Homo sapiens: one gene and its partner. The protein of the gene in region 1 purifies or fractionates together with the protein of each later gene. This does not show direct contact. Each region holds a gene or a part of one and is shown in the gene's direction. Other genes may lie near its edges.

Region 1 (3,826 bases):
CGTGCTACCACACCTGACGAATTTTAAAATTTTTTGTATAGACAGGATCTCACTATGTTGCCCAGGGTGCTCTTGACTCCTGGGCTCAAGCGATCCTCCCACCTCAGCCTCCCAAGGTGCTAGGATTACAGGCATGAGCCACTGCACCCAGCATAAAATGAGCATTTATAATTCCAGTATGCTCCTGTGTCGGATGTTTGAGAGTTAAGAGGTACATATACATTTCTTGGCACTTTGAGATGATTAGCTGAACCAGTCACTGCTCTGTTCAACAGGTGGATTTTCGGAAAAGACATATGAATGGAGCTCAGAAGAGGAGGAGCCAGTGAAAAAGGCAGGACCAGTCCAAGTCCTCATTGTCAAAGATGACCATTCCTTTGAGTTAGATGAAACTGCATTAAATCGGATCCTTCTCTCGGAGGCTGTCAGAGACAAGGAGGTTGTTGCTGTATCTGTTGCTGGAGCATTTAGAAAAGGAAAATCATTCCTGATGGACTTCATGTTGAGATACATGTACAACCAGGTATGCAGGAAGTACTTTAAAAAGTTTTCTTTCTTCTGTGCTTCTGTCACTTCATGTTTTTATTTCATGGTGTTCAAAATTTTCATTTCTATTATTATGTACCCTATATATGAACCAGCTAAAGAAATGCTGTGGTGTAACCATTCCAACCTCAGTGCTTTGGGGACCAAACTACACAGACCAATTTTCTCTGAAGCTGCTTTGCTGCATTTCCCTTAGAATATAACTTATATTTTTATTCTTTTAAAAATAGGCACATAATATTCTGATTATAGACTTAAATGTTATAGTGTTTAAAATGTCACATAATTTTTGTATTGTAATCACTTTTTTCCAACATTTAGTATGAAATATTTCAAGCATATAGCAAAGTTAAAAAAATTTTATACTAAACATCTTGGTATCCACCACCCAGATTCTACCATTAACATTAGTATTCCTGCTTTATCACTTATGACTCCATCTATTCATCCCTCTTTCCAGCCATCACTCCAAGTTATTCTTTGATGCATTTGAAAATAAATTGCTGGCCGGGCACTGTGGCTCACGCCTGTAATCCCAGCACTTTGGGAGGCCGAGGTGGGTGGATCACGAGGTCAAGAGATCAATACCATCCTGGCCAACATGGTGAAACCCTGTCTCTACTAAAAAAAAACACACAAAAATTAGCTGGGTATGTTTTCCTTGTCCTTCAAGGTTATTTTTCAGGCTTAGGATTTTTATGAATATCTCAATGTAGATCATTGACTCAGAGTGAATGTTATGGAAATGTTATTATGCTAATTAATAATAATCACAATTTATTCATTGAAGTATGCATCCCAAGACATTTTTCCAGGTAATACCTTATTGGAAAAATTTCAATTTCTACCTCAATAGTAATTATTTATTGACTACCTGCTAAATGTTCTAGATTGTGCTAGGCACTATGGTGGATACCAAAGAAAACATACCATAGATTTTGCACTTAGGCATCTCATGGTTTGGCCAAGGAGACAGAATAACAATAGGTGAAATATTTAGAGCATCATTACATGGTGATATGGTGACAGATATATTTTTTCTTTTCTTTCTTTCTTTTTTTTTTTTTTTTTTTTTGATACAGAGTTTCACTCTTGTTACCCAGGCTGGAATGCAGTGGCGCAATCTTGGTTCACTGCAACCTCTGCCTCCCGGGTTCAAGGATTCTCCTGCCTCAGCCTCCCAAGTAGCTGGGATTACAAGCATGCGCCACCACATCTGGATAATTTTTTGTATTTTTAGTAGAGACAGGGTTTCACTATGTTGACCAGGCTGGTCTCAAACTCCTAACCTTGTGATCCACCTGCCTCGGCCTCCCAAAGTGCTGAGATTACAGACATGAGCCACCATGCCCAGCCTGATCGACGTATTTCTAAGTGTAGTTCAGGGAAGGGCATATTGTAGGCAAAAGTAACTGGAGAAAGCTTCATAGAGATATTGGAAGTTAGAATAGATTTTGAAGATGTGTGGATCTGGACCAGAAAAGGAAGAATGGACATTCTGGACTATGAGGAATAAGTATAATATATGTATTAAACAGAGTGTACACCTTCTTCCCTAGAGTGGAAATTAAGTATTGGAGATGAAGAAGAAATAAGATTGAATAGGTTATTGAGCCAGATAATAGAACAAATTCACAGAAGAACCAAAGCTCTTGATAACGGTCTAAAATGCCTTTTAGAACAAGATAGGATATAATTAAATACATTTTTCTTTAAATTAGTTTATGTAGATTTTTTATCAGTCCAAGTAGTCCTCTCCCAAATTCCTCTGCATTCGTTACTGTAAGGTTTTAGATTGGACAATTATCTAATGAGATCTTCCAAAAACTAATAACTTATTCTCTGTAACAGATATCAAAATGGGGGTAACTACTATCAACCAAGGTCACCAATTACTGACTTACTAAATCTATGGGATATTTTCCATGCCTTATCCAACTTGATCTTCAGCCTTTAAACAATTGATAATTTTTCCTATTCTGTCTTCCTTTGGCTTCTCAAACTCCACTTGCATCAGTACTTGTCTATTCCTTCCTGCTGTCCTGGCCCTGGTCAGACCTTCAATCATATTTTTGACCTTTATTATAGCACCCCCACCTTTATCTTTTCTAGCTATCATTTCCCTTCCCTACTAACTAGCCCTACCTACTTCTAGAATAGTATCTTTCTACCACAACTATGATGATAATTCATCTCTGCTTCTTCATAACTTTCCGTCGCCTGCAGGATAAAATCTGACTCCCTTAAGGACCTTACAAGGTCTTTCAGAATCTGGCTGTCTGTCCAGCCTCTTCCTGCTACTTGCTTCCTCCTCCCACAAAACCAAAGCATAATATGCTCCCTACTTCCTTCCTTTCTGCCTGCCTGCCTGCTTGCCTTCCTTTCTGGAATGCCTTCTCCAAATTTGCTTCCCTGGAAAATTCCTAAATATTTTTCAAGTCTTAGCTCAAACATCCTATGTGGTCTTGCCTGACCAATGGTTAGTTATTTATTTTCTATGCTACCATTTATGCATTATATATACTTCCATTTTGGCATGCATTTATTGCATCATAATGGTTTGTTTGCATGTCTGTCTCGCTGTTAGGCTGTGAATTTCCTCTGGTCTGCAATGATATCTTTTCATTTTTATATCCCCAGGACATATCAAAAATGTGGCAGATGGTTGCTCCTCTGTAATTATTTTTTGGATGAATAAAGTGATGGTATCAATGCAATAGATGTGCATATGTTGTTTCCTTTTAACTCGAATTGGAGAGGGATAAGAATCAGAATGAATGAATGGAAAAAACTATATACACATATCAAGTTCCATATCATAGACTTTATCATTTTATAGGAATCAGTTGATTGGGTTGGAGACTACAATGAACCATTGACTGGTTTTTCATGGAGAGGTGGATCTGAGCGAGAGACCACAGGAATTCAGATATGGAGTGAAATCTTCCTTATCAATAAACCTGATGGTAAAAAGGTATGATGCTAACTTCCTAAATAAAATTGAGTTTTCACTTATAACAGTTACTACTTTTTAGGATCCTTGAAGTTGCACTTTTGAAAATTAATTTTGACCATTTGACATGAAGCTTAAAGTGGGGTAGCATCCTATAGCATGATCTTTGTTTCCCTTTCTTGTGATCAGAGTAGGCGAAATTATAACGATGATAGAACAGCAGATCAGCAAGTAACATCTGTATTTTGTTTCACTGCTACATAAAGTTTCTGTTACGTTGGATTACTAGTAAAAATTACTTATAATAGTAATCAGCTGTTAATATTT
Region 2 (3,826 bases), on another chromosome or scaffold:
GGAGGAAGATCACGAGGTCAGGAGTTTGAGACCAGCCTGGCCAACATGGTGAAACCCTGTCTCTACTAAAAATACAAAAATTAGCTGGGCGCAGTGGTGGGCGCCTGTAATCCCAGCTACTTGGAAGGCTGAGACAGGAGAATTGCTTGAACCCAGGAGGCAGGGGTTGCAGTGACCTGAGATCATGCCACTACACTCCAGCCTGGGTGACAGAGCAAGACTCTGTCTGGGGAAAAAAAAATGAGAAATCACAGAAAGAAGAATATGACTGACAGGAAAATACAGTTGCTCCTACTGGGAAGGTGGGGATTTAAAGTTTGCTGTACTTACACCAGCAGCCTAAATTGAGGCTGGGCATGTCAGACTTGACAGCCCCAGACTTGCAGTTTCCCTCCCCCTGTGTTGCTAGGAGGCCCTAGAGAGAAACAAAGCATGAAGAAGCCTAATTGTGATGATTTTTTTTCTTTTTTTTGAGACAGAGTCTTGCTCTGTTGCCCAGGCTGGAATGCAGTGGTGCAATCTCGGCTCACTGCAACCTCCGCCTCCCGGGTTCAAGCGATTCTCCTCCCTCAGCCTCCCGAGTAGCTGGAACTACAGGCATGCGCCACCATGTCTGGCTAATTTTTGTATTTTTAGTAGAGACGGGGTTTCACCTTGTTGGCCAGGCTTCTCTTGAACTCCTGACCTCAGGTGATCCACCCACCTCCGCCTCCCAAAGCGCTGGGATTACAGGCATGAGCACCGCACCCGGCCAATTATGATGATATTTAAAGGCAATTTTGATTTTACCACTGGTAGGTATTTGCTGAATGGTAGGAGAAGGAATGGGAGTCAGGTTCCTTGAGATGTTCCCTGCTCATGCTGGTGTTTCCCAGTTTGAGGCCTCTGGCCTGTGTTGTTCTGGTGGCTCTGGCTGATCACTCTGGTGGGTCTTGGGCCATCCACATGCATTTTTCTCTCCTGTTTGCAGTGGTTGGAGACCAGACCTAACAGACAGGTGTGTCCTGTTTGCAAAGCTGGCATCAGCCGAGACAAGGTCATCCCCCTCTATGGAAGGGGCAGCACTGGGCAACAGGACCCCAGGTGAGGACTCAGGATGCCTCTCCCAACCACTTCTCCCCTTGGATGTGAATTCACTCCCATTCAGCATCCCCTAACCCCACCCTTTACTTAGTACTAGATGATCTCTTGGTTTCGAAGCAGTCTCATCCAGATGAGAGTCAGCTAGGAGGGGAGGGAAGAGAGGGGATCCAAGTTGCCACTTGCTAGGACCCAGCAGTGAACAGACATCACAATCACAAGTGTGCAGAGCCCTGTGAAAGAGCATTTCTGCAACCTGGGAAGCAGGATATGTAGCAGGAGAGGCTCCAGGGAGCAGGGTTGCTGCATCAGTGATGTATAAAGCATGGCGGGAGGGGAAACAGGATCTGGGTGACTTTGTGGAGTTTGGGATTTCTAGAAATGGAGATGTGCATGGGTCCAGCATTCAACAAACACAAGTATTGAGAGCCCTTCATGGTCTGGCATCCCCAAGCTCTCCAGAAGAATCTCTTACCTTTATCCAGCTACCCTAGCATATGCTGTGTACCCGACATATTAGACTTTCTCTTAAAGGGACTTGCTCTTTCACATTTATCAGCCTGTGTATTTGCTCTCTCTTCTGCCTTCTTCCCTCCCCAGTCCTGCTCAAGCTACCCCTCTACCCCCACCTGCTCCTCTAACTTCTACTCATCTCTTATGAGCAGCCCTAAAGTTCCCTCTTCCTTGAAGTGGTCTGTCTTCTTCACATTAGTTGCTCTCACCCAGTTCCCACCACAGTGTCATATGACTGGCTTTATCCCCCTTGAAACCATGAACACTTCAAGGGTTGGGTCTGTCATCAGTATTACAGCATCCTGCATAATGCTTATTGTATAACTAAGCCCTCAATTGAGTATTCATGGGTTGAGTGATTTGAGGGGGTGAGACTCAAAAATAATAGCATTGGGTATTTGCCCAAGAATAGTAGGAGATAGAGCTGAAGTTAATAGGGGAAGGTCAGAGAAACCATGAACCTCAGCCCTTACTGCTGACAACCCACCCTCTGTTCCAGTATGGATTTGGGATTTCTGTTATCTGTAACAGGCCCAGGGAAGGCATCTGGCCATGATTCCTAACCGATCTGAGTCAGGATCTCTGTAAGAGGAGTAGGCTGTAGTGCAATCTGGTGAATATCTCATAACGAGTTGATTTTCTCCCTGGTTCTCTATACACGTGGGAAGAACAGTTGCAGGTAGAATGAAGAGTTCGTATTTGGAGAATTAATCTGGCATAAGTTCATGTCCTGGACAAGAAAGAGGCTATGGCCCTGACCCTGTTGGTAAAGAGCTCCAGGTCCTCACAGGGAGCAACTCAAAGCAATTTGTAATAGACTTATTTTACACCATTTCTGTTTCAGAGAGAAGACCCCTCCTCGTCCTCAAGGACAGAGGCCAGAGCCGGAGAATAGAGGGGTGAGGAACATTCTAGGAGAAGCTTCTACAAATGAGCTGATGGCTTTAGAAGTTTCCTTCTTAGCCTTACAATTTTTCTCCTTGATTATAAAAGTAAAGGAAAACTTGTAAAATACAGAAAGGAAAAGAGGGGGAAAAAAATCACTTATAACCACACCAATCCAGAGGTAACCACTGGAAACATTTTGGTTCTATTTTCTTTTCCATTTTTCTATAATTATATATACACACAAATTTTACAAATCTGTGCGTGTATTTTACAGATGTGTGTATACTTTTTACAGTTTTTGTTTTTTGTTTTTTACAATATGTGGCTCCTGTTTTGTAACCCTCTCTTAAAATTTCATTTGTTCTACAGATACTTAGTACCTTCTTTGTGTGAGTGGGAGTCTTTTAGTATTATCTTGAGATTTTACATTGCCAGCAATATTTTACTAACTAGCTGTTTAGCATTTAGTTGTGTGGATTTAACATAATTCAATCCTTTGTTAGACATTAGCGGCTTTCTTTTTCCAAGTTAAAAAAAATCCTGATGAACTTACAGATAAATTTGTGAGCATGTTCATTATTATTTTATTAGGATAAGACAGGGTCTCACTCTGTAGCCCAGGCTGGAGTGCAGTGGTGTGATCACAGTTCACTGTAGCCTCGACCTCCTGGGCTCAGTCTACCTCAGCCTCCCATGTAGCTGGGACCACAGGTGCACGGCACCATGCCCAGCTAGTTTTTTGAGTTTTTTTTTGTCTTTCTTTTTTTTGTTTTGTTTTGTTTGGGTAGAAACAAGGTCTCACTATGTTGCCCAGGCTGGTCTCTAACTCCTGGGCTCAAGCAATCCTCCCACCTCAGCCTCCCAAAGTGTTAGGATTACAGGCGTGAACCACTGTACCTGGCTTAGGATAAATTCTTAGAAGTAAGATTACTGGCTAAAAAAAAATTGCACATTTGTCTCTAGTGGTCTAGTGGCTAGGAACAAAAACATTTACATTTTTTGCATATTTACATCAAATGTTACTCTTAAAAAAATTCTGTTAAAATGTTAAAGAAATTTTAAAAGCAAAATATTTACCCACCATTGCCAAGAGCCCAGAACAAGTATATTCTCATATCCTCATGTTCTCTTCATCTGTAGGCTGTGCATATGTATTTTTATGTAGCCATCACCATTCTGTTTGCTTTAAAATTTAATTTTGGCAGGTTTTCCATGATGCTCTGAAGTGTCCTCTTTATTATTTAGGCTGCCATTTATCCTATTGAGTTTTTTATTATTTTTTATTTTTCCATGCTATTGCTGGGAACCCATTGAGTTTTGGTTCATTGTAATTTGGGTTTTCCTC

The links.
Region 2: the proteins of ATL1 (region 1) and RNF185 purify together in Homo sapiens (affinity purification with western blotting, with the first as the bait; one study listed by BioGRID). This does not show direct contact.

Annotation. Positions count from the first base shown.
Region 1 is NC_000014.9:50,587,556-50,591,381, forward strand, and holds part of ATL1 (atlastin-1), read left to right. Parts: intron 1-275; coding exon 276-523; intron 524-3,385; coding exon 3,386-3,520; intron 3,521-3,826.
Region 2 is NC_000022.11:31,194,499-31,198,324, forward strand, and holds part of RNF185 (E3 ubiquitin-protein ligase RNF185), read left to right. Parts: intron 1-970; coding exon 971-1,083; intron 1,084-2,437; coding exon 2,438-2,492; exon of another isoform or gene 2,493-2,659; intron 2,660-3,826. UniProt on the Homo sapiens protein: E3 ubiquitin-protein ligase that regulates selective mitochondrial autophagy by mediating 'Lys-63'-linked polyubiquitination of BNIP1.